Linked DNA regions of Homo sapiens: region 1 is linked to region 2. The links come from fine-mapping of genetic effects on gene expression. A gene starts in region 2. The other region holds a variant in brackets. All regions are shown on one strand. Distances are between the middles of the regions. Region 1 overlaps LONRF2 (LON peptidase N-terminal domain and ring finger 2). Region 2 holds the start of LONRF2 (LON peptidase N-terminal domain and ring finger 2).

Region 1 (14,910 bases), 26 kb after region 2:
CCAGTGTGATTTGTTACATTGATACAACACGTTTGGTCCAGAGAAAATACATTTCTTGCATGCTGTTGTTCAGGTGCTTAGGTGTTAATTACAGCGTTTTAAATTTTTTCGCATTCAGATCTCTCACTTCAAAGGAGCCCAAACTCTGAGACAGAAGAAAGTCAGGGGCTCTCGCTTGATGTAACTGACTTTGAGTGTGCCCTCTGCATGAGGTAGGATGGTACAGAATCCGTGCAACTCTTTTAAAACTGCAGCCTTTCTGAAATGTATACCAAAGTGTAATGGGCTTTTTATTATCACGGAAACTAGGGAGAGCTCAGTAATAATTGATTTATTTTCTAAAGATTTAATAAGATATAAAATGAAAGTGCATGCAAGTGATTTCTAGAACAGAAAGGGGATTGCATAAGGAATCCTTCAAAAACCAGTCCATGATTTGAAAGTCTGTCCTGGACATTTCTGGCTGAAAACAGATATTTTCTTCCAGATTGCTCTTTGAACCTGTCACTACGCCCTGTGGACACACATTTTGCCTAAAATGCCTTGAGCGCTGCCTTGACCACGCCCCACACTGTCCTTTGTGCAAAGACAAACTTTCGGAAGTAAGTACACTTTAGGAAATGACGGGACAGCTCCTCCTCTCATCCCTTGGTGGACGCTTACTCCCTGTCTCGTGTTGCTTCCCCCACCCAGTTGTTAAAGAAACTGAGATTTCTCCAATCAAAGATAGGTCTTTTCTCATCTCTTTGATGAATCAAGAAATACACAAGGAAGGTTGACATACAGAAATTGCTAAATGTTAAGGACATTTTTAGGTAGAAATTTTAGTTGAGATAGATTGAAAATAGCTAACATTATGAACCCTACATTACGTTCATTGTAAATGGTTGAGACGTTGTCATGGTGCACTTAATGTGCTCCAGGAATTCTCTTTTTCATCTTGAGAGTTTTTCGTAGGATTGAAGACTTGATCATTTCTGACCACAGGTGAGTCCCTTTAGGGCTTTTACAGTTGTCAGTTATTATTGTCTTTGGTCTGAAATCAAAACCAGTAAAATTCAGGTCCCATGGGGAAGCTATTTAATGATATTTAGCCCCAATATAAACTATTAAATCCAGGTTCCATGGGGAAGCTATTTAATGATATTTAGCCCCAATATAAACTATTAAATCCATTTACGTTAGGTATGGTAAATACAATGAAGAGTATTTAAAAGCTGAAGACCTTCTGATCAATTCCTGAAATAGTGAATCCATATCAGCTGTATTGGGCTGTGGTCCTATTAGTGCCATGAACTTTCTATGGAGCAAGTCATATAACATCTTAAGGGGGTGGGGAGTATCTTCCTTTGTTTTGCATTCATTAAATGAGACTGATAATATTTGCCTTAATTACTTTCCAGAGATTAAACTTATTGAATGCATTTTAAGTAGGATAAAGTTTTTTTTTCTTTTTACAAACGTACAGTAAAATTTATTTTTTAAATCTGATGTGATAAGATGAGATATTATACTTAAGTGAAGTTTTAAATAATTATAACCTTTAAAATTTACTGCCAAAACATTAAAATAACTAGTTACAATTGAAAACATTTTCTAAAACATTGTATGCACATACTTGCTTTATTAAATTGCATGCATACTGAATCTTTTTAAATTCTTCAGAGTTCTCGTGAACATCAATTATTGTGCTGTGCGCTGTGTGTCACAGTGGTGACTGTGCTCTGAGTCTGCAGAGCTGTTTCCTTGGTGGCCCCTGTGCAGTTTTCCTCTGGGCATTTGCTGTCTCTTCTTGCTAGTAGATGCATCGGACCCACTGCCTCTTGTTTTGGTGCCTGCCTGGGCCAGAACAGGCTCATCTGTTCTTACAAGAATAAAATGCATGTATGTGTGAGCCCTGTTTACAACACAGACCTTACTCACTTCTGTTTCGATGCTGCCTTGTAGGGGGCTGAGTGAAGAAGTGATAGCTGGAGGTCGTCACTAGAATAGAAGCTGCTTGGCCGGGTGCAGTGGCTCACGCCTGTAATCCCAGCACTTTGGGAGGCTGAGGCGGGTGGGTCACAAGGGCGGGAGATAGAGACCATCCCGGCTAACACGGTGAAACCCCGTCTCTACTAAAAAAAAAATACAAAAACAAAATTAGCCAGGTATGGTGGCGGGCACCTGTAGTCCCAGCTGCTCGGGAGGCTGAGACAGGAGAATGGCGTGAACCCGGGAGGCGGAGCTTGCAGTGAGCCAAGATTGCGCCACTGCACTCCAGCCCGGGCGACAGAGCGAGACTCTGTCTCAAAAAGAAAAAAAAAAAAGAATAGAAGCTGCTTAAGTACTGAGACTTCCTATGACCTGTTTTCCCTGTATTTCCAGGGACTAGCACATGCACCAGAGACTCTAGAAGTCTTTGTTGAATGAATGAATGAATGATTACATGCAAACTATACATGGGTTCCTAATGTTCCAGAAATTAGAATGCTATAAAGTGAAATAAAATCCAAAATTATAGTTTTGTCTTTCTTCAATGCGGGAGTCACATCATGCACATAAATGACTTTGCATGCACTACCAGGGACCTGAATCATCAATTATATATGAATCTCCAGAACCCTTGGCTAGCATCATGCCAAGTAGAGCATGTTTTATTGTATTACTCTTCAATAAAAGGACATCATAAACCATTTATTAAATACCTATGTCATTAATAATGACAATTATGAAGCAGTTTTGTGAGTGAGATGATAGCCTGTTTCTCTACCAGTTACCCTGTGATGGTGGTTCTCAAACATAGGCGTTTCCAAAGTTTGAACTCCTGGTTCTCAGTCAATCACAGCAATACATTTAGTTTGTTTCACACCAACCACAAGGAAACCTGGCAGTATGCGAAGGACTCACCCAGCCATGGTGTGTTGGAAATACGTGGAGCCATCCCAAGCCCAGAAATGCAGCAGGCCACCAAGGAAAGAGCAGAGCCCTGAAGCCCGCCAGGCCTGGGGTCCTCGCTATGCCATGGTGGCTCAGCACTGACCCCTTACCCTTTCTGAATCACAGCTTTATGAGCGCAGTGGAGAGAACAACTATAGTATTATACTGTTTTCAGGACTAATAAAGCACCTGCAGTGGTCCCTGATGTGCATCAGAATGTCAGTGAAAAGAGCTACTATATGCTAGTATACATGCCTGCAATAAAACAGTGCAACCTACCAAACTACTAATCTGTGTGCACACATACACACGCGCACACACACACACGCAGAGTAGTAGTTCAGCCACATTGTGGCCCTTCCACCCACCGATCCCAGCACTTTCTTGTTCAGTCTCCTACCTTCCCTTCACATCCCGCTTTAATCCATGGTCCCTCTCTCTCTTTCTCAATCCAAAAAAAGTCAACCTTTGCCTTTTGCATGCATCCTAAGTAATACAACAAAGCTAGAAAAAAACATAATGTTGGGAAGATTGGTGTCAGTTTAAATGAAAAATTTTAAGTCTTAGACTCAAAACATAAGTAATCATTCTTACATTCTTTCTCTAGTAGTTCCAGTTCTTCACTTTCCAAGCTGATCATTGCAAAAGTCTCTCCTCTCCCAACATGCCCTACTTCACTTCCTCCCCTCTCACCAACATCATGGCACTTGGTTGAAAATGTAGATGCTGTCAAGATTGAGTTGCCTCATCCTTCATCCAGGTGAACGCCTCCTCCTGGCCTTTTCTCACAGTGGAGGGGCTGCCCCTGCTCTTGTTACAGGCTGGCCCGCCTCTCTCTCCATCCCTTTTCCTTCTTACCTGCTCAGAGATCCCACCCACCACCTCCTTGTTCACCTTTCCACTCGGAAGCTTCGTCCTTTAGAATCAATTACCATACAGTATCATTTGACTTTTTTTTGTTACAGTTATTGGCAAGCAGAAACTTTAACATAACTGTTCTGGCCGAAGAATTAATATTTCGATATTTGCCGGATGAATTGTCTGATAGGAAGAGAATTTATGATGAAGAAATGTCAGAACTGTCAAAGTAAGTGCTCATGTTGTGTGTCCTTGGTCTTAAGTTCAGATTGAACTTTGTCAACTTCAGCTTCACCTCAGATTTTCTTTTCATGGCAGAGAACTCTCTTGGTCTGTAAATGGAAAAGGATGTTAATTGCAAAATATTTTTGGAAACATAATTGCAAGCAGTTATAAGAATTTGTTTTCTTTTTTTATAAGATATTTTTAAAGTGTTTTAACAAAATTGTATAGTTGCTTTTTGTATGTAAATAAGTGATACTGAATTTTTCAGGATTTAAAAAGCAAAGAAGGCTAGGCACAGTGGCTCATGCCTGTAATCCTAGCATTTTGGGAGGCCAGTGCAGGAGGATTGCCTGAGCTTAGGAGTTCAAAACCAACCTGGCCAACATAGCAAGACCCCACCTCTATATTAAAAAATTATTATAAATAATTAAAAATAATTTATATATTAAAAATAAATAAAAGGCAAATAATATAAATGTATTTGTTACTGATGAACTGTACACTTAAGAATAGCAAATTGTATACGTATATTTTACCTCAAAAAATTTTTAATGTAATGTCTGCAAAGTGGAGTAAAGTGAAGCACAGTTTTAAAAAGTAGAGAGAATGAGAACTAATACCCAGGATTGCGAATCACAGCAGGCTTGACAGTTTTCATCTTTTAAAATGGTAAAAGTTTTGTATTTTAGTAGCGATCTTATCACTCTTCCACTCTTCTAAAACTCATTGCCTTTGACTACTATGTAGTTTTTGCTTTTATCAGAATTTTTTTAGAGTGCTTAAAAGGTATAACTTTTCCAAGCAAAGTAATATAATTCAGCATGTTCTCTTTCCTCAAGTTAAATAAGACAGATTTGTCAGGAAACCTGGGTGAGCAGAGAATTTTCACATGCTATGGTCCTTGGCTTTCTTGTCCCTCTTAGCCTGAGGGTTTTGTTTTGTAGAGGGGAGAACTGAGGTTGGCTGGCTTTTGCTGTTTTGGTGGCCAGTACCACCCTCTGATCTAACAGCTCATACATCTGAGATAACATGTCCCCTTGCTCTGCAGTCTGACCAGAGACGTCCCCATCTTTGTGTGTGCCATGGCCTTCCCCACGGTCCCATGTCCACTCCACGTTTTTGAGCCCCGCTATCGGCTTATGATAAGAAGATGCATGGAAACTGGCACCAAGCGGTTTGGCATGTGTTTATCTGCTGAGCACGCGGGGTAAGAACTGTTAGCATTTGGTTCAAAGGGTCCTAATGAAGGGCATCGTTTGTCATTTTTCTTGCAGAATGATTTAGGCTGATGCTTGAAAACCTCCAGTGGCTCCCGTTACGTAACAAAGTCCAAGTTCAAGGCTGCCCACAATGCAGTCCCATCCCTTCTTTCTAGCCTCACTGCCCACCTCTTCCTTTCAAGTATCACACCCACTAGTCCATTGCCATGCTACTTGCCCTTCTCTTGTGACAGCTCATGCTTCCACACCTCTGTGCTTCCCTCTGCCTGCAATTTTCTTTATCCCCATTTATATACAAACAAATCTAGTCCAACTTCTGAGGTCTAGGAAAATTGCGGCTGGGCTTGGTGGCTCACGCTTGTAATCCCAGCACTTTGGAAGGCTTAGGTGGGAGAATCGCTTGAGCCCAGGAGTTGGAGACCAACCTAGGCAGCATAGGGAGACCCCATCTCTACAAAAACATTTTAAAAAGAAAAATGTCTATATCCTGCGCAAAGCTTTTTCTCTGTCTCTACAGCCAAATCATTTTCAGTCTTACAAAAACACACTAAGCTTGGTTTTCACCTCCCCTCGTTTCACGTCTTTGTCCAGAGAGGGTGTTGCAAGCCAGCAGGTCATTCCCCTCTGTGGACTGATTTGGGGACTCAGGACCCTCCCATCCCTTAGGGCCTTGTCAGCCCTACATAGTCATGATGAGGTCACTGCATTCAAGTGCTAGCTATGGAGGAGGTGCACATGCTCTTAAAGGACTCTGGAGAAAGGGGGCTGCCTCCTGTTCACACCTGCTGCAAAGGAGCCTGGCAAATATAGTCCACCTACGTGCCCAGGAAGAAGAGGAGACTGCATTTTTAGGGCCACTCAGAATTTTCCACCATAAATATCTAGGGACAGATCTTTTTAAAATATGTGTAGGACCTTTATGGAGAAAATTCTGAAATTTTATTGAAAGATAAGAAGTTCTGAATCAAAGGAGAGAAATGCCATGTCCGTTGGTGCACAGACTCAATGCTGTAGAGATGCCATCTCTATCCAGTTCCACAAATCCAGAGTAATTCCTGTCAGCATCTCCAGGAAGCTTCTTCATGGACTTGCTCAAGCTGATTTTAGAATCCGTGTAGAAAAGCAAAAGACTAAGCCCAGATCTGGCTGAACAAACAGGAGAACATTCCTGTAATATCAAGTTTACAAGCCTTAGTAAGTAGACCAGTGACACAATAATGTAGAGATCCGAAACAGGTCCACTCATATGTGGACGCCAAATTTATAGACAATTGTATGAGAAAAGACAAACTACTCAGTAAAGGGTGCCCAGAAAATTAGTGGGTGGTCCAAATGAGAGGGGGGGAAAAAGCTTTACCTTATGCCATAAATAAAAAAATAACACATTTGCATTCCTAATGTGAAATGTGAAAAACAAAATATAAAAACATTTAAGAGGAAATATTGGGGACTGCCTTTATAATTAGGAGTGGGGAAAGATTTTTTATACAAGGTGCTGAGAATACATAACAGAGGGAGAGATTAGTAAATTAGAATATATGAAAATTTGATTAAAGTCAGCAAAGAGAAAAAATAAGCTATAAGAGTTCCACGTGCACTGAGAATATAGAACACTGAAAAGAATGTTATTCCCATCCAAACAACAAGAAAAACAAGAAAAAACAGATAAACCACAGAACATGTATTTCTTGAAGCCATCAGAGAGTGAAGGTTGCTCAGGGTAACCAAACAAGATCCCACAGGGAGAGAGTAGGCAGAGCCCAGGAAGAGACATAAAAGTGTGTAGGAAGAATTCAGCTATTTTTCTTTTTTTAAACAAATTGCTAATGACCTTGTGTGGGCTGGCATCAGAGTGCAGGTCTGGAGAGCTGCACTCACGAAGGGAGTTTGCATCACACACAGGCTCCTGTCCACAGATAAGAGGCTCCTTGATGAGTCATGCCCTGCAGCAAGGCAGGCTTGGAGGAGCTGACATTTGTCTGGAGGCCTCTGCTGGTTGCTGGGGCATTCAGTCCTCCCTTGAAGAGGAATCTTCAGGGCGCCTCCAGTTTCACCATGCTATGAATGAGATCATCCTGTTAGATACCAGGAAGAGAGAGTTTTATTAAGTATATAAGTAGAGGCATCCAGGTGGCAGTTTGAATCATCGCTGCTCTTTAGTTTGGGGGACGTGTAGTAAAGCTGCTCACCATGAGAACTTTAGAATCACACTGCCATGAGTTCTCATTTTGGCTCTAAATCTCCCTGTGGCCTTAGAGAAGTTAATTCCTCTGAGCCTCCGTGTTTTGTGGGCTTGAATTCGTATATATTATAAACTGCTGTGTGTGGTGCTTGGCACGTGGTAGCGTGAGAACATCACTAGGTTACGGGTGATAGTTACAGTCAGAGTGTGGGTAAGAGCTGGGGAGAGCTTTGGAATGAGAATAGACATAGCCTAGAATACCACCCTGGGCAGCATGGAGCAGGAGGGACATGCAGAGGTAGGGGCTGTGAAGGGCCGGGCTGGTTAGAGAGGGTTCAGGAGAGCAGAAGCATTAGCTCAGCAACAGTCTGCAGGGCCGTGCCTTAGGGAGGTCAGACAGGAGCCTGTCAAGTGATTTGAGCAATTCAGAGGGCATCTCTGACTTCTTTTGGAGTCATTTTAATGGAACGGTAGGATATGGAGGAGTGAGGGGGAGGCAAGGAGATGAAGGCAGTGGCCGGGGACTGCTTTCCACGGCACTTTGGTTGGGGAGGGCAGAGCTGGCAGAATTGGAATGAGGTGAAGACCTTGTGGGCGAAGGCAGGAGGGAGGAGGAGCGGAGTGCCTTTGAAGGTGGAGGACTTGCTGCCCCAGCAACCAGCACCAGCAGAGGCCTCCAGATAAACGTCAGCTCCTCCAAGCCTGCCTCACTGCAGGGCATGACTCATCAAGGAGGCTCTTATCTGTGGACAGGATCCTGTGTGTGATGCAAACTCCCTTTGTGAGTGCAGCTCTCCAGACCTGCACTCTGGTGCCAGCCCACACAAGGTCATTGGCAATTTGTTTAAAAAAAAAATAGCTGAATGCTTCCTACACACTTTTGTGTCTCTTCCTGGGTTCTGCCTACTCTCTCCCTGTGGGATCTTTGTTTGGTTACCCTGAGCAATCTCCACCCTCTGGTGGGTTCAAGAGACATATGTTTTGTGGTTTATCTGGTTTTCCTTGTCGTTTTTCACATTCTTTTTAGTGTTCTATATTCTCAGTGCACATGGAACTCATAGCTTGTTTTTTCACTTTGTTGACTTTTGATGAATCAAATTTTAAGTGTGGGCTTGAATTCATATGTATTATAAACTGCTCCGTGTGTTGCTTGGCACGTGGTAGCATGAGAATATCACTAGGATAAGGGTGATAGTTACAATCGGAGTGTGGGTAAGAGCTGGGGAGAGCTTTGGAAAGCCGAGTGTGTGCGTGGCACCAGCTGGGCAGTCCTGATGGTGCCCCGCCAAGGTGGCTGAGGAGCCACATTTGAGATTTCATCTCTTCCCATCTCTCGGGTCCTTCCCAAAACACTAGCCCGTTGGAACCGCTAAGGCACAAGTCCTGTCTCACCTGGAGCCCTTCCCCTGCAGCCACCATCACCACTATATTTAACATCTAACAGAAGCGACCATGTGCACGTGTCTCTTAGCGACAATAACCTTGCTGGTCTGATGTGGAGACACTGTTTTGTGTGGCTTTGTATTCCTTTTAAAAGTAAACTCTCATCCAGGGAAAAAGAAGGCCCCCTGCATTTTAAAAATCACAGTCATTTCTCCTAACTGTCTTTTCAGGCTTTCAGAGTATGGATGCATGCTGGAGATTAAGGACGTGAGAACGTTTCCTGATGGAAGTTCTGTTGTAGACGCGATTGGCATCAGTCGGTTCCGAGTGCTAAGCCACCGCCACAGAGATGGCTATAACACAGCGGACATTGAATATCTTGAAGATGAAAAGGTAAGGCTTATCATACTGGTGTATTTTATAGCAGTCGGTCCTCTCGCTTCCCTTTGCATTGTGGAAAAGCTTTGTCAAACTTGTACTGACAATATTACTTAAGTCCTTAATTCATCACTTAAGTTATTTATTTATCTATTTGTTTATTTTTGAGTCAAGGTCTTGTTCTGTCGTGCAGGCTAGAGTGCAGCAGCATGATCTTGGCCCACTGCAGCCTTGACCTCCCAGGCTCAAACGATCCTCCTGCTTTAGCCTCCCGAGTAGCTGGGACTGTAGGTGCACACCACCACACATGGCTAATTTAAATTTTGTTTGTCGTTGAAACAGAGTCTCCCTGTGTTTCCCAGGCTGGTCTCAAACTCCTGGGCTCAAGCAGTCCTCCCACCTCAACCAAAGTGTAGTAGCCCCAAAGTGCTGTGACTACAGGCATGAGCCCCTGCCTTCAGCAGTTATTTATTTTCTCAGTGGATTTTTACCTGAGTTGGGAGCTGGTACAGAAATCTCCTTTTAAAAAAATGATCTGGCCAGGCATGGTGGCTCACGCCTGTAATCCCAGCACTTTGGGAGGCCAAGGTGGGCAGGTCACGAGGTCAGGAGATTGAGACCATCCTGGCTAATACGGTGAAACCCTGGCTCTATTAAAAATATAAAAAAATTAACCATGTGTGGTGGCGGGCACCTGTAGTCCCAGCTACTTGGGAGGCTGAGGCAGGAGAATTGCTTGAACCTGGGAGCTGAAGGTTGCAGTGAGCTGAGATCGTGCCACTGCACTCCAGCCTGGGCGACAGAGCAAGACTCCATCTCAAAAAAAAAAAAAAAAAAAAA[AAG/G]ACCTTATTGTACTTATGCAACATGTAAACCTGCGCATTGCAAAATAGGCTTTTGATTTGTATTTGATGCTGTAGCCCTGGAGCTGGCAAACTTTTTCTGTAAAGGGCCGGCTAATAAGTACTTTAGACTCCAGAGGCCATGTGGTCTCTGTCGAAGCTACCCAGTTCTGCCCTTGTAGTGCAAAAGCAGCCATAGACAATGTGTAAAGGCATGAGCATGACTGGTTTCCGTTAAATGTGACTTCCGGAAACATGGTGGTGAGCACGGTTTGACTCATGAACAGCAGTCTGTCAGTCCCTGTTCTCTAGGTTGGTATTAATTCAGAATGTGACAAAATCTACAACTTAAAAAATACCTCCCAAAGCTAAATATAAAAGACTTGAATTTATTAACCCTTAAGAATTTTTTCATGTGTCTAATAGAAATATCAGGACATATAATTTGACAAATTAGCAAAATGTTTTGAGAGATTCTCCAACAGACTTACACAAGGATGTCCATAACAGTCTTACTCCATTATAGCCCCAAACCAGGAACAGCCCAGGTGCTGATCACACTTGAGTCAGTAAACACATTGTGGTCCATTCATGCAATGGAATACTACCTGTCAATAAAAAGAAATGAACCACTCGTGCATGAAACAATATGGATGACTCTCACAGACATTATGCTAAGTGAGAGAAGCCAGACACAGGACGAACACATACCGCGTGGCTTCATCTGTATACTTCCAGGAACAGGCAAAACTAGAGTCTGGGGACAGAAGTCAGAAAAGGCTTGTGGGGTTGGCTTTGTAATTGACTGGAGGGAGTGGTGAAGAATCTTTCTAAGTAGTGGAAATGTCTATCTGGTTTTGGGTGATGGTCAGACTGGTGTATACAGTTGAGAAAACTCTTTGAGCTCAACAAGATCTATGCACTTTTTGGTCTGTAAATTATACTGCAGCAAGAAATTTTAAAATACTTAAAAGGAGGAAATCCTTGGAATTATTGTATCCCTCTTTTAAATTCTTTGGTTGACATTTGGAATTGTGGAAGTGAGGGTACGTAGCCACCCCACATCACACTGGAAGTCATTTTGGGGGCAGTGGTGTACACTTAGGATTTGTGAATGGAGTCACACCCAGGACACTGTCTCTGTGCCTCCTCCAGCTGCTGTTTCTGGTCATCCCAGTGCATGGGAGCAGAGCAGGGAGCCCAGCTCCCAGGCTGGACCAGAAAGCTGGGTTTCAAAGCTACAGCTGAAAGTGATAATTCTCAGGGTCTCTCTGTGGGATGGATAGACCTGACGGCAGGGTTTATTGACCGTTGTTGTAGATGACAGCTTTTAATAGTGTATGCGCTTATTTTAAATGGGGGCTTAAATAGCTACAACATGAAATAATTTTAGCTTATTTTTATAAGAAAATCCTCTATCACATATGAATATTTGATTTGTATAAATCAAATTGAGGGTGGTATATGCATTATATTATAATTTCTCAGCACACCGTAGTTTTTGTAGGTACTGGAATTTTGTAACAGGAAAGGACCTTCATGGTTTATTCCTATTATGCAGATGAGAAAACTCTGCCCTAACGAGGCTGTGAGACTGGCTAGATTCACACATGAGAGTTGGTGATGAAGCCAGACCAAACCCTGGCCCCGTGATTCCCAGTCCCATGCTCTTCCTCCTCTACCAGGTGTTCCTGAACAGGACTGAGGCGTAATTTAAATGACAGATGTGATAGTGACATAGGGACCAGAGGCCAAGCTTGGTCAGTCTAAGGTGCTGTGGCCGACCACAAGCTGGAGTCCATCAGCCCAGGCCAATGTAATGAGTGTAGTCTTGCCCTGTCGTGCCTTTAGGAATATAGTTTGGTGATATGGAATACAATTTTTAAAATGTCACCCTTTGACTTGGTAATTCTGTCAAGGTCTCTAGGAAACTACACTGAGGAAACCATACCTCCCTCCCTTGTCAAAAAAGCAAAACAAAACAAAACAACTTTTCCATAAATGTTTATATTATTGTGTTATTTTTAAAAATAAAAAAGCTAGAATATTCTAAATAACTTACGTGAATAGTTAAGTAAATTGGCATGTATCTCAAATATATAATTGCATGCAGCCATTGAACATTATTCAAAATTACAGGAAATGTGCTTATATTATGGTATTAAGAGAAAAATCAGGATACAATTGATAGATTTCAACTATGCAAAAAATGCAGATTTCTATATTGAGCATGTACCATTTTTGTGAAACTGATGAATTATTAAAATGCTAACTGCCACAAATCCACTTAGTGGAGGTGCAGAGGTCGCTGACTGTGTTACGTGCATTACTGTGAATGGTTCACACAGCTGTGCCTCTTTCCCTGATCAGGTGGAGGGTCCAGAGTATGAAGAACTTGCCGCTCTCCACGATTCTGTGCATCAACAGTCTGTTTCCTGGTTCGCGTCTCTCCAGGATCGCATGAAAGAACAAATTTTAAGTCATTTTGGGGTAATGCCAGACAGAGAACCTGAGCCTCAGGTATGCCCTCCCTTTTTCCTTTATAATTCTGTTACTTCCTGCTGTAGTGTGCTGAGCCATCATTCTGGTGGAGAGCTTGGCAGTATGATGCTGGTTACCCCAATGTGGTTGCTTATGAACCAGTTCATCTACTAACAGCCCAAAGGAGCACCTACTGTGGTAGCACATGACTTGTGAAGCAAAACAACAAAGGCTCTCTAACAGAACATAATTTCTTTTCTAACAACAATCAGTTTATTCTGCTTGGCTGTCAGCTTTTGTAGCCTTTTGCTTCTTTCACTCACATCTTAAAATTTAAGTAGTAACTTTATTGTATTGGCATGAACATTCCACGTTTGGCGCATAGCATTGCCTTGCACCTGGTATAGAGATGTTGAATAAGTGAAGAGAAAAATCCCATCATTCTTGTGACATTAGTAGCGTGACTTCCTTGTCCTCTAAGTACCCTGCTGCCCAGCTGTCATGGGCTTTCTCTGGTGCTCCCTACAAGTACTTTTGGTGAAGCTGGTTCTTTAAGCAATGAATGAGCTTAGGTTTGTGGAGCATTTCTAAGCTCAGGTGGGCCTCTCCTCTGCATTAGATGGGAGAGCCAGGCTGGGCTGGTTTAAGATTGTGCCTGAGAGTGTATACCTCCCACCTGTACATGGATGCTCAGCTGTCAAAGACAGTAGGGGAGGGGGATTGGCTCTCAGCTGGTTTAGGGTGATGTGAAAGGTCTTTTCCCATCCATTTTAACTTTTTTTTTCTGTCTCTTGGAGCTTCTATCTTTTACCCCCTGCCTGAATTCTTTTTTTTTCCAAACACAGAAAAATGCTTTAACTGCCAGAAATTGCCATTAAGTCCTTCCTGGCTTGCCCTTTTTGCATAAGCCTTTGTTCTGCAGTATCCTGGAACTCAGATTCAGAAAGCATGGTGGTTACACTGACTTGCATTAGGATATGAGTCATTCTTTTTCCTAGGAGTTGTTGTTTATTAACCAAATTAATCAATCTCTACTTGGCGGGTATATTAGCTTCCTACTACTGCTGTTAAGAAATTTCACGAACGTGGTGGCTTAAAACAACACATATGTATTATCTTTCACTCCTGGTTCTGCAGGCCAGACTATGATCAGGGTGATGGCAGCATGCGTTTCTCTTTGGAGGTTGTGGGGGAGAGTCTGTTTCCTTGTCTCTGCAGCTTGTAGAGGCTGGCGGCATTCCTCGGCTTCCTTCCTCCATCAGAGCCAGCAATGTTGCTTCTCTCCGACCGTTCTTCCAAAGCCACATGTCCCTCTGACCACAGCCCAGACAGGACCCTATATGAACACATTGGGCCCATCAGGATAATCCCCCCATCCCAAAGTCCTTAACTGAATCACATCCTCCAATTCCCTCTGCCATATAAGGTACCATATGGGGGACCATTTTTCTCATGACTACAGAGGGATTTTAGGTAATACATCAATTTTTATATGAGGTCCTTCCCATTAAGCGTGCTACTCAGTTTTTTTCTTTCTCTGTGAGATGAGGCAGGGAAAAGAGTGTGAATCTGTATAAAAGGTTGTTTTCTCCATCTGTGCCTTTCTACCTCTGAAGGGCAGGTTGATGTCTTCCTCACAGTGACTTGGGCTACCCCTGGTGAGCTTTGGCCACAGTGCTATTCCTAGTCCTCCAGCATAATCTACCTCACCCTAAACTAAGGTGACTCCAGAGTTCACCCTCCCAGCTCTTATCGGCATCCTGCACATTTTTGGAGAAGGAATAGAGTGAAGAATCCTAGACCCTGGAAACAAAAAGGCCTGGATATCTTGGTTCCAGTACTAAGAATATTGAGAACGAGTTTATGATCGGCTTTTGCCTAGCACTTAGTCTAGAAGTGCTTTGTTTGATTATGTGAAATAAAGGTTATTTGGTGGCATAATAATTCTTATATATATAATTTATGATAACTCTTGCATATGACATGCATACATATATATGTTTCATACATACACTCATTTGCCACATTGAGTATGTCACTCAAACTTGTACACATACTTTTAGCCTTTATAATATTATGCTTTATATGGCATGCTTAAGACATAAAAAATAATAGCACAGAACATTGGAAAGTGAAGGTTAAAGTGATAGTATTCTCCTCTGACTGGTATATACTCTTAACTGAAAGCTTGAGAGAACAGAAGCAACTAATTCATAGAATCTCCCCATGGAAGATGCTTCTCTTTGCAGGCTCTTCCTTTTGTGAGTTCCCCCACCTTTAAATGTGTACCATAAAAGTAAACTATGTATTTTGAGAGCTGAATGAATTGTGAATTAGCCCTAAAATACAAGGTGGCATTTAATTCTTGCTCACGTGTCTGTTGGTGGAGCAAAAGACTGTGTTGGGGAACAGGCTTGCATTTCCA
Region 2 (15,769 bases):
TTGTGTAGAGAAATCATAATTTGTTCATTCACCCGTTGAAAGACATTTGAATTATTTCTAGCTTGGGGCTGTTACAAATAAAGCTGCTATGAAGGTTCATGTAGAAGTGTTTGAATGGACATATGCTTTTATTTCTTTTGGATAAATACCTAGAAGTGGAATGGGTGGTTAATATGATAAGTATACAGTTAACATTTTAAGAAACTGTAGTCCAAAGTGGCTGCACCATGGTACACTCCCACTGACAATGTGTGAGAGTTCTGCATATGCCCTGTATTTGCCAGCACTCAGCATGGTCAGCCTTTTTAATCACAGACATTCCACTAGGTGTGCAGTACTAACTGCTTGGGGTTTCATTTGCATTTCCCCAGTGGCTCATAATGCTGAGCATCTTATTTGCCATCAATATGTCTTCTGTAATGAAATGACTGTTCAAATCTTCCACTCACTTTTTAATCCAGTTCTGTATTTTCTTATTGAGTTCTTGGATTTCTTTATATATTTTTGGTTCGTACTTTATCAGCTATGTGATCGGCAAATATTTTCTCCTAGTGTGTAGCATGTCTTAGCAGTGTCTTTAAAACAGCAGAAGTCCTCAATTTGATCCAATTTATTGATGTATCAGTGCCCTAGAAGGAATACTTTTAAATTGGGATTTGTTTTATGGCTCTAAGATGTTCTATATCGGTAAATGTCCCATGTGCACTTGGAAAGAATGTGTATTCTGCTATTGTTGGGTGGAGTGTTCTATAAACATCAATCAGATTGAGTTGGTTTGTAGAATTGCTCAAGTCTTCTATAGCCTCACTGATTTTCAGTATACTTGTATTAATTGTTGAAAGAGGGGTGTTTTATTTTTAAGTTCTGGGGTACACGTGCAGGATGTGAAGGTTTGTTACATAGGTAAACGTGTGCCATGGTGGTTTACTGCACCTATCAAACCATCACCTAGGTTTTAAGCCCCACATGAATTACTTATTTTTCTTCATGCTCTCCCTTCCTCGGTCCCACCGCCGACAGGCCCCAGTGTGTGTTGTTCCCCTCCCTGTGTCCATGTGTTCTCATTGTTCAGTTCCCACTCATAAGTGAGAATATGCAGCATCTGGTTTTCTGTTCCTGTGTTGGTTTGCTGAGGATAACGGCTTCCAGCTCCATCCATGTCCTTACAAAGGACATGATCTTGTTCTTTTTATGGTGAAAAAGGGATATTTAAATATCCAACTATAATTATTAATTTACCTATTTCACCTTACAGTTCTATCAGTTTTTGCTTCAAATATTTGAAAGCTCTGTTATTGGGAACACACGCGGTTAGGACTATTATGTCCTCTTGACCAACTAACACCTTTATCATTATGAAATGGCTGTCCTTTCTCCTAGCAATGTTCTTGGCTATGTAATAGACTTTGTCAGCTATCAATATAGTCACTCTAGATTTATTTTGCTTAGAGTTAACTAGAACATCTTTTTCCATCCTTTTACCTTTACCTTATTTGTATTTTCATATTTAAAAGTTCTTTTTTGGTAGGCAGCATATATCTGGGTCTTCCTTTTGACAATCTTTGCCTTTTAATTATGGTATTTAGACAATATTTAATGAACATTAACCGATATAATTGGGTTTAAACCTGCCATCTTGCTATTTGTTCTCTATTTGTTTTATCTAATTGTTTCCTTCCTCTCTTTTTATGCCTTCTTTTGGATTAATAGAGTTTTTTTTAACAATTTCATTTCATCTCTATAGGCTTTTAAACTATAGCTCTTTGTGTTATTTAGGAGGTTGCTTTAGGGTTAGAGGACACATCCTTAACTCATTACAGTCTTTCTTAAAGTGACATTATACCATTTCACATATAGCATTAGAACCTTACAACAGTATCCTGCCATTTCTCCTCTACCTGCCTTTGTGTTATATTTGTGATATATTTTATTTCTATGTGTTATAAACCTCACAACACACTAACATTTTTGCTTTAAACACTTCTGGCTCTCAGCAGGCATACCTCCGGCAAGCTTCTTTCTGTTCTCTTGCTAGATATTTGTCTAAAATAAGAACAAATAGGATCTGAGATCATAAGGTTTCACAATCTTTACTGTATGGTCTGTGCTCTGAAGCTTTTTCCCCATTGCTTCCTGATTGTTGGTTGTGAATTTGATGGATAAATGACCCTCAAATATAAGTGAATTGTTATTCTATAAAGAAAGCAGATAAAAATCCAAACAGTGATTGAAAAAGTGAATTTGAAATAATTCAGTAATGAAAAAGAGACCCAAACAGTACACTGTTATCAATTAAGTTAGGTAGACAGCTGGGGGAAATCCTTCATGGAAAAGGAGGTGGGTACTCTGCATTTGTTTATTGTAGAACTAGAGGGCTGGCCAAAAATTGCCCCTTTTTCCCTTTTAGGAACTGGTCTAAAATGTTCTCTCACTTAATGAGGCATTTCTCCTTTCCCAAAGCCAGATGTGGTCGAGGTATTGTATATTTTCTTTAGCCAGCAGTTTTAGATGTAGAAAAACCTCTCCAATTTTTTAAAAAAATTTATTCTTGAAATATGAACAGTAGTATGAATTCTAGAATATTGTAATGCATTTTATTGTATTCAAATACACAGGATAAAACAGATACTGTGACGACAGGAAGAAGGGAGCAGGCTACATAGGAGAAATACATAGGCTATATAGGAGAAATTATGAACCCGGTTAATACGCACAGAGGATTTTAATTTAAACCTTGCTTGTACACCAACGGAGCGTTTAGCTCCCTCTCCCCAGCAACTTATGTCTGCAGTACTCCATACTAGGGCACCCTTTCTATTTCTATTCTAATTCTATTAATTAGAATTCTATTTCTAATTCTATTTCTGCTTCCTAATCAAGGGCACAATACAATTGTCCACTTCTCGAATCCCTCCTCCTCCTGGTATCTGGTTCTCTTGGCCCTCCACGTTCTCTGTTAAAATGAGTTCTCAAAGGCCTCAGCCTAGAGTTAAGAGAAGAAGCTCGCTGAGGCGGGGCCTCTGGGTGCCCACTTCAGCCTCCCCAGTCATTTAGGACAATTTCCTAAGTCGAAGCTAGAGATGCGTGATGCGTTTGGTGACTTTTCCTGGGTTCTTGCTTAAGCGGAGCCACAGGTTGTGGGGGCGGCCAGGCCTCTGGGGAAGAGCAGGTGCCGCGGTGCCGGCGCGCCAGCAGCCCGCGGCCAAGGCCACCTGCTCCCAGGGCCCCGGCACCTCTGCGGGGAGGCGGCAGGCAGAGGACGCGCGCGCAGTCGCGCAGGAGCCCTCAGGCGAGTGGGGGAAGCATCGCAAGAGACGCGGACCTGGAGCGCGGTCACTGCGTTACCGCAGCGACCTGGGTTACCTAAGCCGGCGGGACTGAGAGGCCGCTGCGCGTGGGCAGGGGCTCAGATTGCGCCCGCGGTGCCTGTCCCGGCCCCCACCCCGGAACGATTGCAGCCCTGCGGGGCTCGCCGCCCACACCGCGCTGAGGACGCTGCCCAAGCCAGGCGCCCGCCCCCGCCCGCGGTCTCAGCCGCTCGCAGCGCGCCGCCCCCAGACGCGCGTGGCTGCTGGCGAGGGCTGAGACCGCGCTCCCGCCGGCCAGTTCCCAGCAGCAGCGCATCCTCCCTGCTCCGCGCCTTCGCTCCGGACCCGCGTCGTCGCAGCCCCGCGGTGATGAGCCCCGAGCCGGTCCCGCCGCCGCCGCCGCCCCAGTGTCCTGGCTGCGACCGCGCGGAGCCGATCGCCCAGCGCTTAGAGGAGGGCGACGAGGCCTTCCGCGCGGGCGACTACGAGATGGCAGCCGAGCTCTTTCGCTCCATGCTAGCCGGGCTGGCGCAGCCGGACCGCGGCCTGTGCCTGAGGCTGGGGGACGCGCTGGCCCGCGCCGGCCGCCTCCCCGAAGCCCTGGGCGCGTTCCGCGGCGCCGCGCGGCTCGGGGCGCTGCGGCCGGAGGAGCTGGAAGAGCTGGCGGGCGGCCTGGTGCGCGCCGTGGGCCTGCGCGACCGGCCGCTGTCCGCGGAGAACCCGGGCGGCGAGCCCGAGGCGCCCGGCGAGGGAGGGCCGGCCCCGGAGCCCCGCGCGCCCCGCGACCTGCTCGGCTGCCCGCGCTGCCGGCGGCTGCTGCATAAGCCGGTGACGCTGCCCTGCGGGCTCACAGTCTGCAAGCGCTGCGTGGAGCCAGGGCCCGCGCGGCCGCAGGTGCGGCGCGTGAACGTGGTGCTGAGCGGCCTGCTGGAGAAGTGCTTCCCGGCCGAGTGCCGGCTGCGCAGGCTGGCAGGCCAGGCGCGGAGCCTGCAGCGCCAGCAGCAGCCGGAGGCCGCGCTGCTCAGGTGCGACCAGGCCCTGGAGCTGGGTGAGTCGGCTGCGGGGCGGGTCCGCCTCCCCTACACCTGTCCGGCCCAGCAGCGGGGTGGGGAGCTGGCCGGTGGGCCCGAGGCTTTGGGCTTTCGAGAGCTTTGTCTAGGCTTAGGGGTCACTTTGCTTCCTAAGGATGGGAAGGTGAAAGGTGGGGGCGGCCACACCCTGCAGCCAGGAGAGGCCAAGTGCACCCCACTGGTTTTGTCTTTTCCAGGATGCTGGTAAGTTTCCCGCGGCCCCCGGAGCAGCTCTGTAAGGTCCTGTAATTGCTTTTCGGCATCTTCTGCGCTGTTGAGGAGCGGGGAGGATGACGAAATATTTTTGCTCATCCTGAAGGAAAATGCACATAGCTGACACACTACAGGCGCAGAAAGGGGTGCCTTGTGCTGGGGCAAGATTTGCTTTGGGTTTCAGCTAATATAGCCAGGAAGGAACCGCCTCCACTCTGCTGTAATCACGTCAAACGCTCCGGCTCTAGCCTGCTCTCTGTCTCAGAGGCCATCATTAGATGTCATGGCGTATTTAACTTACTAGATAGTTACACTGACTAGTGTGTGTAGTTTTAAATTGTTCATTCAGTCATTTCCTTATTTATCTGAGGCCTAAGGCCAGCAACAGGCACTCTCCTGCCTTCACCCAGCCACCACCTGTTAACACTATTTAGCTGAAAGGAAGACCAAACTTCTGTCATCGTTTTGGCTTTGACATATGAGTATGCGCTCTATTGGCAGTTGTTTTGGGCAGTGTGAGGAGGACGGTTTGCTTTCTGGTTTCACCGGTTTTATAATAGGGCATATACGATTTAAAGCACTAGCCGAGAAGACTTGTTGAATCTCTTGTTACTAAAATAATCTACTACCATGCTGTAGTCAGTGCACATTTTATTTTAAACTTAGGATTAAGGTTTTCCCTTTTAGAAGGCACAAATTATAAAGTGACTAGCATTCAATTTTGTCTTGCAAAAAAAAAGATCCAAATATTGAACAAGTGTTCAATATCTGTATCTAAATTGGGATATTCTCTGCTGGAATAGAGCACTTAACTCAGCTTTTCTAACGAGTATTCTGTAGTTTTTGCAACCAACATATCCATACTTTAACAGGCATATTTTTTAGTTTTCTACTAATTTAGGTATTGATGGTGTTAGAGCAGCACTATCCAATTAGAACTATTGTGTAAGCCACACATAATTTGGGATTTTCTTGTAGCTACATTAAAAGGGTGAAAAAAGCAGGTGAAATTTATTTTAGCAATTTTTAACCCTATACATCCAAAATATTATTTCAACATGCCTTCAATTTTAAAAAATAATTGAGATTTTACTTTTTTAAACTAAGCCTTTGAAATTCGTTATATATTTTGCATTTACTGCACTACCCAATTCCAACATCAAATTTTCATCAGAAATACTTCATCTGTATTTAGATGTTGGAGAAGATGTAGAAAAATGAAAACTGTGATATTTATATGCTGCTAATGGGACTGCAAATTATGCCCCTGAAAAATATTTGGTAGTATCTACAGATGTTAAGCCTGTCCTTGGCCAAATAGTTTCAAAGAGGTATATGCATATGTGCCCCCAAAAGAATGTGCAATTAGATACAAGAGTGTATGTCATTGTTAGAGATACCCCAAAAGTGCACACAACCCAAATGTCCAGTAAGAGCAGAAGGGGTGAATATATGATTATGTTTTCATAGCATACTATACAGAAAGAAAATAAATCAACTACAGTTACAAACTACAATGTGGACAAATCTCACAAACATAATGTTAAGTGGAAGAAGCCAGACTCAAGCATTTTTACTATATGATCCTATTTATCTGTAAGCCCAAACAGACAAAATTACTGTAGGATGTTAGAAGTAAGGACAATGGTTACCTTGGGGGGATGAAAAGGGAATAGTGATTGTGAGGAAGTATGAGAGGGATCTGTGGGGTAGTGGTGATGTTCTGTTTCATGATTTAGGGGATGGATACACAAGTGTGTTCACTTTGCAATAGTTCATTGCACTATATACTTATATTTTTAGCTTTTCTGTATATATATTAGACCTAATTTAAACGTTTTTAAAATAGGCTATTTCAGTAAATTCATATGAGAACTTATATAGAATGTATTCATTTTTCTATTCAAAGATTAGCTTAAAATTTTATGAAAACATTTAATTTCAAAATAAATTAGCCCTTTTAAAGAGGTTTTGATATAGTTAAAAAAAAAGTTCACAGATGTTTGGAATCAGAAATACCTGTGTTTAGATCCAAGCTCTGACTTTTTTTTTTTTTTTTAAGACGGAGTCTTGCTCTGTCACCAGGCTGAAGTGTAGTGGCGTGGCTCTACAACCTCCGACTCCCTGGTTCAAGCAATTCTCCTGCCTCAGCCTCCCAAGTAGCTGGGATTACAGGCACGCACTACCATGCCCAGCTAATTTTTGTATTTTTAGTAGAGACAGGGTTTCACCATGTTGGCCAGGATGGTCTCAATCTCCTGACCTTGTGATCCGCCCGCCTCAGCCTCCCAAAGTGCTGGGATATCAGGTGTAAGCCACCATGCCTGGCCTTTTCTTTTTTTTTTTTTGAGACAAGGTCTCGCTCTGTCACCCAGGCTGGACTGCAGTGACATGATATCGGTCACTGCAACCTCTGCCTCCTGGGTTCAAGGGTGATTCTCGTGCCTCAGCCTCTCAGGTAACTGGGATTACAGGCATGCACCACCATGCCTCGTATTTTTTTTGTGTGTGTGTTTAGTAGAGACGTGTTTCACTATGTTGTCCGGGCTGATCTCCAACTCCTGTAGTCAAGTGATCTGCCCGCCTCAGCCTCCCAAAGTGCTGGGATTATAGACATGAGCCACCACACCTGATGTCTGATGCTTATTTATTATGTGACCTTAGCGAAGTGTGGTAGTCATTAGTGCTGGTCTATCTCTATACCTTCCCCAGGCAAGGTAGGATTGCACTTCCCGCTCCACTTGTGATTAGGTGGAGCCATGTGACTACTTTTGGCCGATAAGTTATGAGTGGAATTTAAAATAACTAGTACGTATGTTGAAAGAGGTAAATAAATGTATGAAAATATAAAGCATTCAGAAGACAATTGTCCATAAAAAAGAACCAAGTGGGTATCCTGGAAATTCAAAATACAATGTCTGAAGTTGAGAATTAGATTTGTTACAAACCAGATGGCACACATCAGAAATCTGAATGAGAAAACTCAGAAGCAAGTTAACAGAAAATATCCAAACTGAATCACAGAAGAAGACTAAAAGAGAGCATGGGAGTTATGTGAGACACAGACAAAAGTTCCAACATCGATGAAATTGGAATCCTGGAAGAAGAGAGAGGGGAAGGGCAAGAGAAATATTTAAAGAAAAAAGTAATTGAGAATTTTCCAAATCTGATGAGAAACTTTAAATCACTGAATCAAAAAGTTCACTAAGCCCAACAGGGTGGACACAAGTGCACACACAAACATACACACAAAACCCATCCAAGTACATTATAGTCAAGTTCCTGAAAATCAAAGATAAAGAGAATTTAAATGCATTTAGAGAAGACAGGACATATTTCCTTCGAAGGAATCATAGAAGACTGACAGTTGACTTTTAGACAAAATTATTGAAGCTAGAAGCTAATGGAATAATGTCTTTAAAGTGCTGAAAGAAAAAAAAAACCTAGCTGGAATTCTTTACCTGAAAATATTTTTCACAAAATCAAGGTGCTTTAAACCAAAGAAATAACTCAAGCTAAAGGATTTTATTACCATCAGAATTGCATTTCATGATATACTGAGGGAAAGTCTTCAGGCTAAAGGAAACGTATCCATATGGAAGCGTGAAACTAATGCACAGAGTAAAGAGTGCTAGAAGGTGTAACAATATGAGACAATATTGACTATTTCAAATAACAATAATAATGTCTTGTGGTATTTGTAACATACATAAAAGTGAAAGATATGGCAACAGGACAAAGCCAGAATGGGTAAATACAGTTAAATTGTTGTATGGTTTGTACACTGTTTTGGAGGTAGTAACAGTACCAATTTAAAGTAGACTGCTAAATCAGGTTTGCATATTCTGTTGTCTTGGGTAACCACCAATAGGAAGGTAAAATTAAAAAAAAGCTATAGTGGAATAGTAAAGTAATACTGGATTAATCCAAAAGAAAATGGGAGGGAAGAATAGAGAAGGAGAGAATAAGTGGGACAACTAGAAAAGAAATAGAAAAATGGGGATTTAATTTACATTAAATGTGAAGACCTAAATTTCCCATTTAAAAACTAAATGTTGGCAGATTGGATTAAGTGAAGTATAGCTACATGCTGTTTACACACGAGGTAAACTTTAGGTGTAAGAACACAAAAAAAGGTTAAAATTAGTAGGATGGCAACAAAGACTGACAAACAAAAGCCTGATATGGCAAAGTGACTATCAGATAAAGTATTCTTTAAGGCAAGGAATATCAGAAGAAATAAAGACATTTATGATGAATGGGCCAGTTCAACAGAAAAAAAATGTGTAATAATATGCCTAAATTTTTATGCACCTAACAACAAGTGTACACACACACATATGGAGAGAACAAAAGGAGACAAAAGCAAAAGGGGAAATAATTGGAGATGTTGAACAAAACTTTTAGTAACTGATAAAGTAAGGATTGCAAAATAAGTAAGGATATAGATACAACATACTTCAGCACTTAGATTTAATTAATATGTGTCACTACATACAACTACTGCAAAAACATAGCCATTTAGGCTCCCATGACCATAGGCAGAGCGTTGGAGTTGGCCTGTGGTTGTGTTTGCCAACTCCTGGATTAGGCCATGAAAGAAGTCGTAATAAATATTAAAAGATTGAAACCAGACTGTATATGTTCTTTAAACACTGTGGACTTAAACTAAAATTAAATAGCACATAAATAGAATATCTTCAGATATTTTGAAATTAAGCAATATATTTTTATATAATGATGGGTAAAATGAATCACAACATAAAGTAGAAAATTTTCTAATTATCTAATAATTATTAGAATTATTAGAATTTCTAATAATTATTAGAAAATTTTCTTTCTTTTTTTTTTTTTTTTTTTTGAGATGGAGTCTCGCTCTGTTGCCCAGGCTGGAGTGCAGTGGCACGATCTCAGCACGCTGCAAGCTCTGCCTCCCAGGTTCACATCATTCTCCTGCCTCAGCCTCCCCAGTAGCTGGGACTACAGGCACCTGCCACAACGCCTGGCTAATTTTTTGTATTTTTAGTAGAGACAGGGTTTCACTGTGTTAGCCAGGATGCTCTCGATCTCTGACCTCGTGATCTGCCCGCCTCTGCCTCCCAAAGTGCTGGGATTACAGGTGTGAGCCACCGCACCCGGCCAGAAAATTTTCTATTTTGCCTGAATGATAATGAAAATACAGATATCAAACACTGTGGGATGCAATGCAACAGTGCTTAGAGGGAAACTTACTGTTTTAAATGCCCATACTACCAAAGAACAGCTGATAGTCAGTGATCTTTAGGCTTCCATTTCAAGATGCTAGGAAAAGAAAAGCAAATAGAATCCAAAGAGAGTACAAAGAAGGAAATAAAGGAGCCAAAATCAGTAACAAGACAGGAAAAATACAGCCCAATGTTTCTTACGAATATAGTTGCAAAAATCCTAAATAAAATATTAGCAAACTGAATCCATTGATACCCTTAAAGAATATCACATCAGTAGCAAGCAGGTTAAGTTTTGTTTAATCCTGGAAAATCAAGCAATGTAATTCACCATCTTTACAGAAAAAAGAAAAATGATATGATGCATCTCTCAGGAAACTACGAATAAAAAGGAACTTTCTTAATTTTTTAAAAGTCTACAAAAATGAGATAGCAGCTATCATAATTAATGATGAAATAATGTTTTCCCATTGAATGAGAAGGTAACACTGTTTTATTCTCACTGCCACTCAGCATTTCACTGGAGATTCTAGATAGCTATGTATTAAGATTGGAAAAATAAAAGATAAAACAAAAAACTGTCATTATTTGTAGATGACCTGGCATACATAGAAACTCCAGAAGAATGTAGGAACTATTAGAAATTATAAATGATTTATCCAGATTGCTGACTACAAGGTCAATATAGAGGTTATCAAACATAACTATATACTTAGAAAAAACAAATAGGAAAAAAACTTTAAACAATTTATGTAAACAAATTCCTTGGAATAAATCCTGAAATAGCTGAAAGATGTTTAATACCTCTACACTGAAAATTTCATTTCAATACACTGAAAACATGAAACATTTCTGAGAGAAATTAAAGCAGACTTAAATGGATGGATATATCATTTTTTTTCATGGATTGCAAAACTCAGTATTGGCAAGACGTCAGTTCTCTGCTGATTGAATGGTAAATTCAGTGCAATCTCAGAGAAAATCCTAGCCAGTGTTTTTGGTGGAAATTGATGAATGGCCAAGGCAACAGTGAAGAAAAACAACAAAGCTGGAGGATTTACACTGGCAGATTCCAATACTTACTATAATGCTGCAGTAATTAGGACAGCATTGTATTGGCTTAAAAATAGACACATTGAAACTGACTCTCACATATACAGTCTCTTGATTTTCTGAAAGATGCTAATGGAATTCAATGGGGAAAAATTCAATGGGGAAAAAAGAGTCAGTTGCTTTTTTATATGGAAAAAAATAAACCTGAATACCTATCTCACATCATATAACAAAATTACAATTAAGTATCTAGGAGTCATAGGAGACTGTTTTCAAGGACTTGGGGTAGGCAGTTGTTTCTTAAATAAGACACAAAAAGCATAACAATAAAACTTCTGTTCCTCAGAGGCCCCCAAAAAAGTGAGAAGGGGATGAGTATACAAATATCTTACTGAGACCTCTAATGCAGAATAAATAATGCCTATGATTCAAAAAGAAAAAGCCAATCTGTCTAAACACAGTAAGTACTCACTTAACACCATTGATAGAAACAACTTTAGCTGAAACTACGTAATAGGCAAAGAGTTAAAAACTAGATCTCAAAGTGAGCAATTAACATCTAAAAGACTGCACAACATAATTAGTGCTCAAATGCAAATTAAAATGAAAGTAAGTTAGTACATCCCCACCAGAGTAGCTGAAATGAAAAGAACTGGCAATACTTAGTTTTTATTTGCAGCAATTGGAACTCTTAAATTACTGATGGAAGCATAAGTTTGTACAACAACTTAAGAAATGTGTTTGTTAGCACCTGCTAGAGCTAAACTCGTACAACCTCTGATGTGGCATTTCTACTTTTGAGTATATACTAGATAAAAATGAATGCTTATGTCCATCAAAATATGTGTACAGGAATGTTCATTGCAGCTTTATTTATATATGCCAGAAACATTTGGGGAACAGTTCAATTGTTCATCACTAGTAGAATGAGTAAATAAATCAAGTCATACAGTGTAATATTACACAGCAATTTTTAAATTTTTTAAAATATTAATTTAAAAATATTACTGAGACATATAACAATAAGAATGAATCTCACAGAATGATAATTTAGTGAGAAGTCAGATACAAAAAAGTACATTCCATTTATAAATATCCATTTATAGAAGTTAGAAAACAGGATAAAGTAATCCAAAGTGACAGAGGTGAGAATGGTGGTTACCTTTAGGAGGGGCACACTGAGTGGGATAGTGCACAAGGGAACCTTCTTAGGCCCTGGGAATGAACTACATGATGATGGCACGGGTACACATGCAAAGGTTGAGATATACACCTAAGATTTGTGGACTTGACTCTGTAATTACAGTCTTCCATCAATTTGAATAAATAGGCTTTGAGGAGTATTGCCACTTATTCTTTCTTTTCATAGAGAACACTACCCAGTTTTTATTGCTTTATGTGTCCATTTGTTTGTTTATTTATTTATTTGAAACTGGGTCTCACTCTGTCACCCAGACTAGAGTGCAGTGGGACAGTCTTGGCTCACTGCAACCTCCACCTCCCAGGTTCAAGCAATTCTCATGCCTCAGCCTCCCAAGTAGCTGGAATTACAGGCATGTTCCACCACACCTGACTAATTTTTTTACTTTTAGTAGAGATGGGGTCTCGCCATATTGGCCAGGCTGGTCTCAAACTTCTGACCTCAAGTGATCCGCCCACCTCGGCCTCCCAAAGTGTTGGGATTACAGGCGTGAGCCACCACGCCTGGCTCATTTAACTTGTGTAAAATAACATGTAATCCTCCATTTCTCACCACTGCACACATTTGATAGATTTTATAGCAGTAACCCTAGCTCCTAGTACAACAGTGGCTCTGGGTTGCTGTTGGAAAACAGCCTTTGGTCGACCCTAAACACAGTTGTGGTAGACATCTCTTCTTTTCCTCTCAAAGCCTGGGTCTTAGGCTGCCCTCTTATGACTTTTCCCCATAGAGGGGTTAATTGGTGAACCTACTGAAATGTTGCATCAATTCTTTGGAAAGTACATATGTACATTTTTCTTCCATATGTTTTCTCTACACAAAGACTTTTAATAATTTGCACTTCCTCTTCCACTTAGTTTTGAGGGATCCTTGGAGAACTCCTTTAGTTTTGTTGAGCCTAAGGTTTAATCCTTAGAAAATGTGTAAGCATTTATTTTATGTGTTTTAAAAGACTAAATTGTGAAGTGCTGTCCTCACAAATGTATCACCAAATGGTGGACGTCAACAAAGAAAACAGTGATTCATTCAGTGTCGAGATGAGAAGTGATTGTTTCTTGGCCTTTTGGCTAAGATCAAGTGTAGATGGGAAGTGAATTTTATGAAATTTGGAGTTCAGTTAAAGCACCCTTTAGAATGTGAGGAGTAGAGACTTAAATGTATTCATTAGAAAAGAATGATTAAAAATAAATGTAAATGAAATGTATTTTTAACACTAGAAACTTTATCAGGATTAATTAAGCTAACACAAAGATAGTATAAGCAAAGGAATAATGAACAAGATATTAGTAAAACAGAAAAAAATTGAGTTAGTTAACAGGTGAGAAACTGATTCATTGCCAAGGCCATTAAGGGACAAATATTTGATAAATGTGTTCAAGAAAAAGCAAGGCATAAATACCATAAGGAATAAAGAAGCATCATTGCGGATATAAAAGGATATTTATAAAAGATTTTAAAACTTATATAAAAAGGACAATTTTAAGGAAAATACAAATTATCAATATTTATCCATGAAGAAGTAAAAGCCTTCAAAAAAATTGAGATGCTCCTCAGGGATTCTCTTCTGCTGAAAAGGCGCTAAGGTCAAGAAAGTCCTTACAGCTTTCAGTGACTAATTTCCATCTTATTTCAGATCATAGAAAAATGTGGGAAGATTTTCATCTCATTTAATAAGGTTAGTATAATCTTGACACCACAATCAGGTAAAGCTTGCACAAGAAAAAAAAATGTGTAGGCTAGTCTTACATATGTATATAGATGTCAAAATCCTAATTAAATTTCTTAGTATTTTGAGTCCAGCAGTGTAATAGGAGTTAAGACCAAGAAGAGCTTATACTAGGACCATAAGGATAATTCGGTACTAGACAAATCTTTCAGAGTAATTCACCATATCAGGTTGAAGGAGATAACTATATGTAATCTCTCAGATGCTGAAAGCAGTCTATAAAATTCAACACCTACTTGTTATAAAGTCCTTACAGAAAACTAGGAATGGGAGAGAAATCACCTAACTTGATAAATATTTTCTCTCAGAAACTTACAACAAACATATTTTATGTTAAAACATTAGACACATGCTTTTTAAATTCAAGAATAAGAGAAAATGCTGTCACTATTATTGCAATATGAGAGCATGAGGAAATAGGAGTATAAATACTAGAATGAAAAGGAGTGAATTGCACATGACATTCTTGTTTAAAATATTCAAGAGAATCCATTGGCAGATTGGACTAATAAGAAACTGTAGCCAAGTGGAAACAGGATATGAGATCTCCATTCTCACACAGGTTTGCAGCAGGCATAACCCAAGCCTAAAAAACTATACTTCCAGGAGCACATTTTTTTTTTCCAAAATTTTTTTTTCCAAATCTCCTTTGGAAGATGTGGAAAAAAATCAGCATTATAGTAAGTATTACATTTTTTTCCCCAAATCTCCTTTGGATTTTTGGAAATCTCCAAAGGAGAATTGTATATTTCAAAATGCATTTAACTGTGTGATTGAGGCATTTTCACCAATCTTTTAGTTGGAAATAATCTAATAACATGCTAAAAAGGCAGATACCGTGAGGAGAATCTAATAGAATTCTATAATGTCTTCCCAGCAATTAAAATGCTCAATTTAAAATCATATGAATTGATGCCAGCACTTTCACAGTTACTATGTGCATTTTCAAAGATGAAATACATAAAATCTCATGTTAGATCATAATTAACAGATGAATATTTTCAGTTGTTTTGATGATAGGAAACACTAACTTGGAAACTTAAGAAAAATGTTATTCCCCAAACAAGAATTCCATTCTTCTCATTAGTTTATCTGTATTACAAAAAAGTACTTAAATTATTGTTACCATATTTTAAATTGCGTCAATAAGAAATCTGTCAAAATTTGTTTTCCTTCTTGTTAAGCAAGTATCTATATGATATCCTTCAGTTTGCCTCTTTGCCTGCAAAGCCTAAAATAGTTACTATCTGGCCTGTTACAGAAAAAAAGTTTCTGCCACCTGCTCTAGCCAGTTATCCATACCCAGCAATGTCTCTCTTAATAATTAAAATTGTATTGTTTAACTCTTGCTGTTTCTTTCCCCTTCTACTTTTTTCTTGTTATACTTTCTCTATATTACACATATGTGGTGATGACACATTTATAAGTAGTTACTTTTCACCATGTCTTGATGTAATATCTTTGTGTGTAAGTTCTTCGGTGTATGCTTGCTCAGTTACCTACATAAACTAAAAGGAGGCTAGTGGCATTTGGAAAGCACCAAGTGGGTAGTTTGAAAAGAATCAAGGTCAAGGTTTTGGAGGAAACTGAAAACGTACATTAGGTAGAGGGATGAGAACACATCTTAGGAGCTCAGAAAATTTGTGGTTGAACTAAAATGCATAGCTGTAGCCCTCCTACAAGGATCGTAGGTGGGCAAAGGTAGAGTGAGCCAGGCCCCACAGTATGGAAAATGGCTGTGATGGTTCTGCCTTTCTGAGGTCTGGCTTCCAGCCTTTTCCATGGGACCCTGCCAAGTCAATACTTCGTAGACTGCAAGTCAGTTCAAAGAGAGGCCAGTCTTGGCTTCTGTGTAGCTGGACTTAAGTCTGTGGCAGCATGTGAGTTGTTATCAGGACCTCTGCTGTTGAGGAATGCAGAGAAAGGAGTTTTTTTTTCCTTTCCCTCCTTAAGAGAATATACTGTAGGTACAATTATGGGGACAAATCAACATC

Evidence for each region. PIP is the estimated chance that this variant, and not a neighbour inherited with it, causes the effect.
Region 1: its variant is fine-mapped to the expression of LONRF2 in follicular helper T cells (Schmiedel 2018, PIP 0.95).

What each region holds. Positions count from the first base shown.
Region 1 is chr2:100,284,528-100,299,437 of GRCh38, reverse strand. LONRF2 (LON peptidase N-terminal domain and ring finger 2) reads left to right here. Exons shown (of 12, transcript NM_198461.4): 6 at 119-212; 7 at 488-602; 8 at 3,885-4,006; 9 at 5,051-5,209; 10 at 9,018-9,180; 11 at 12,375-12,524. Among named protein-coding and RNA genes, the nearest start is that of LONRF2, 31 kb to the left of the region's middle. RefSeq lists an enhancer at 7,867-8,507. The variant AAG/G (reference allele first, on the strand shown) is at 10,006.
Region 2 is chr2:100,310,002-100,325,770 of GRCh38, reverse strand. It overlaps LONRF2 (LON peptidase N-terminal domain and ring finger 2), which reads left to right and starts at 3,270. Exons shown (of 12, transcript NM_198461.4): 1 at 3,270-4,356. The coding sequence starts at 3,678.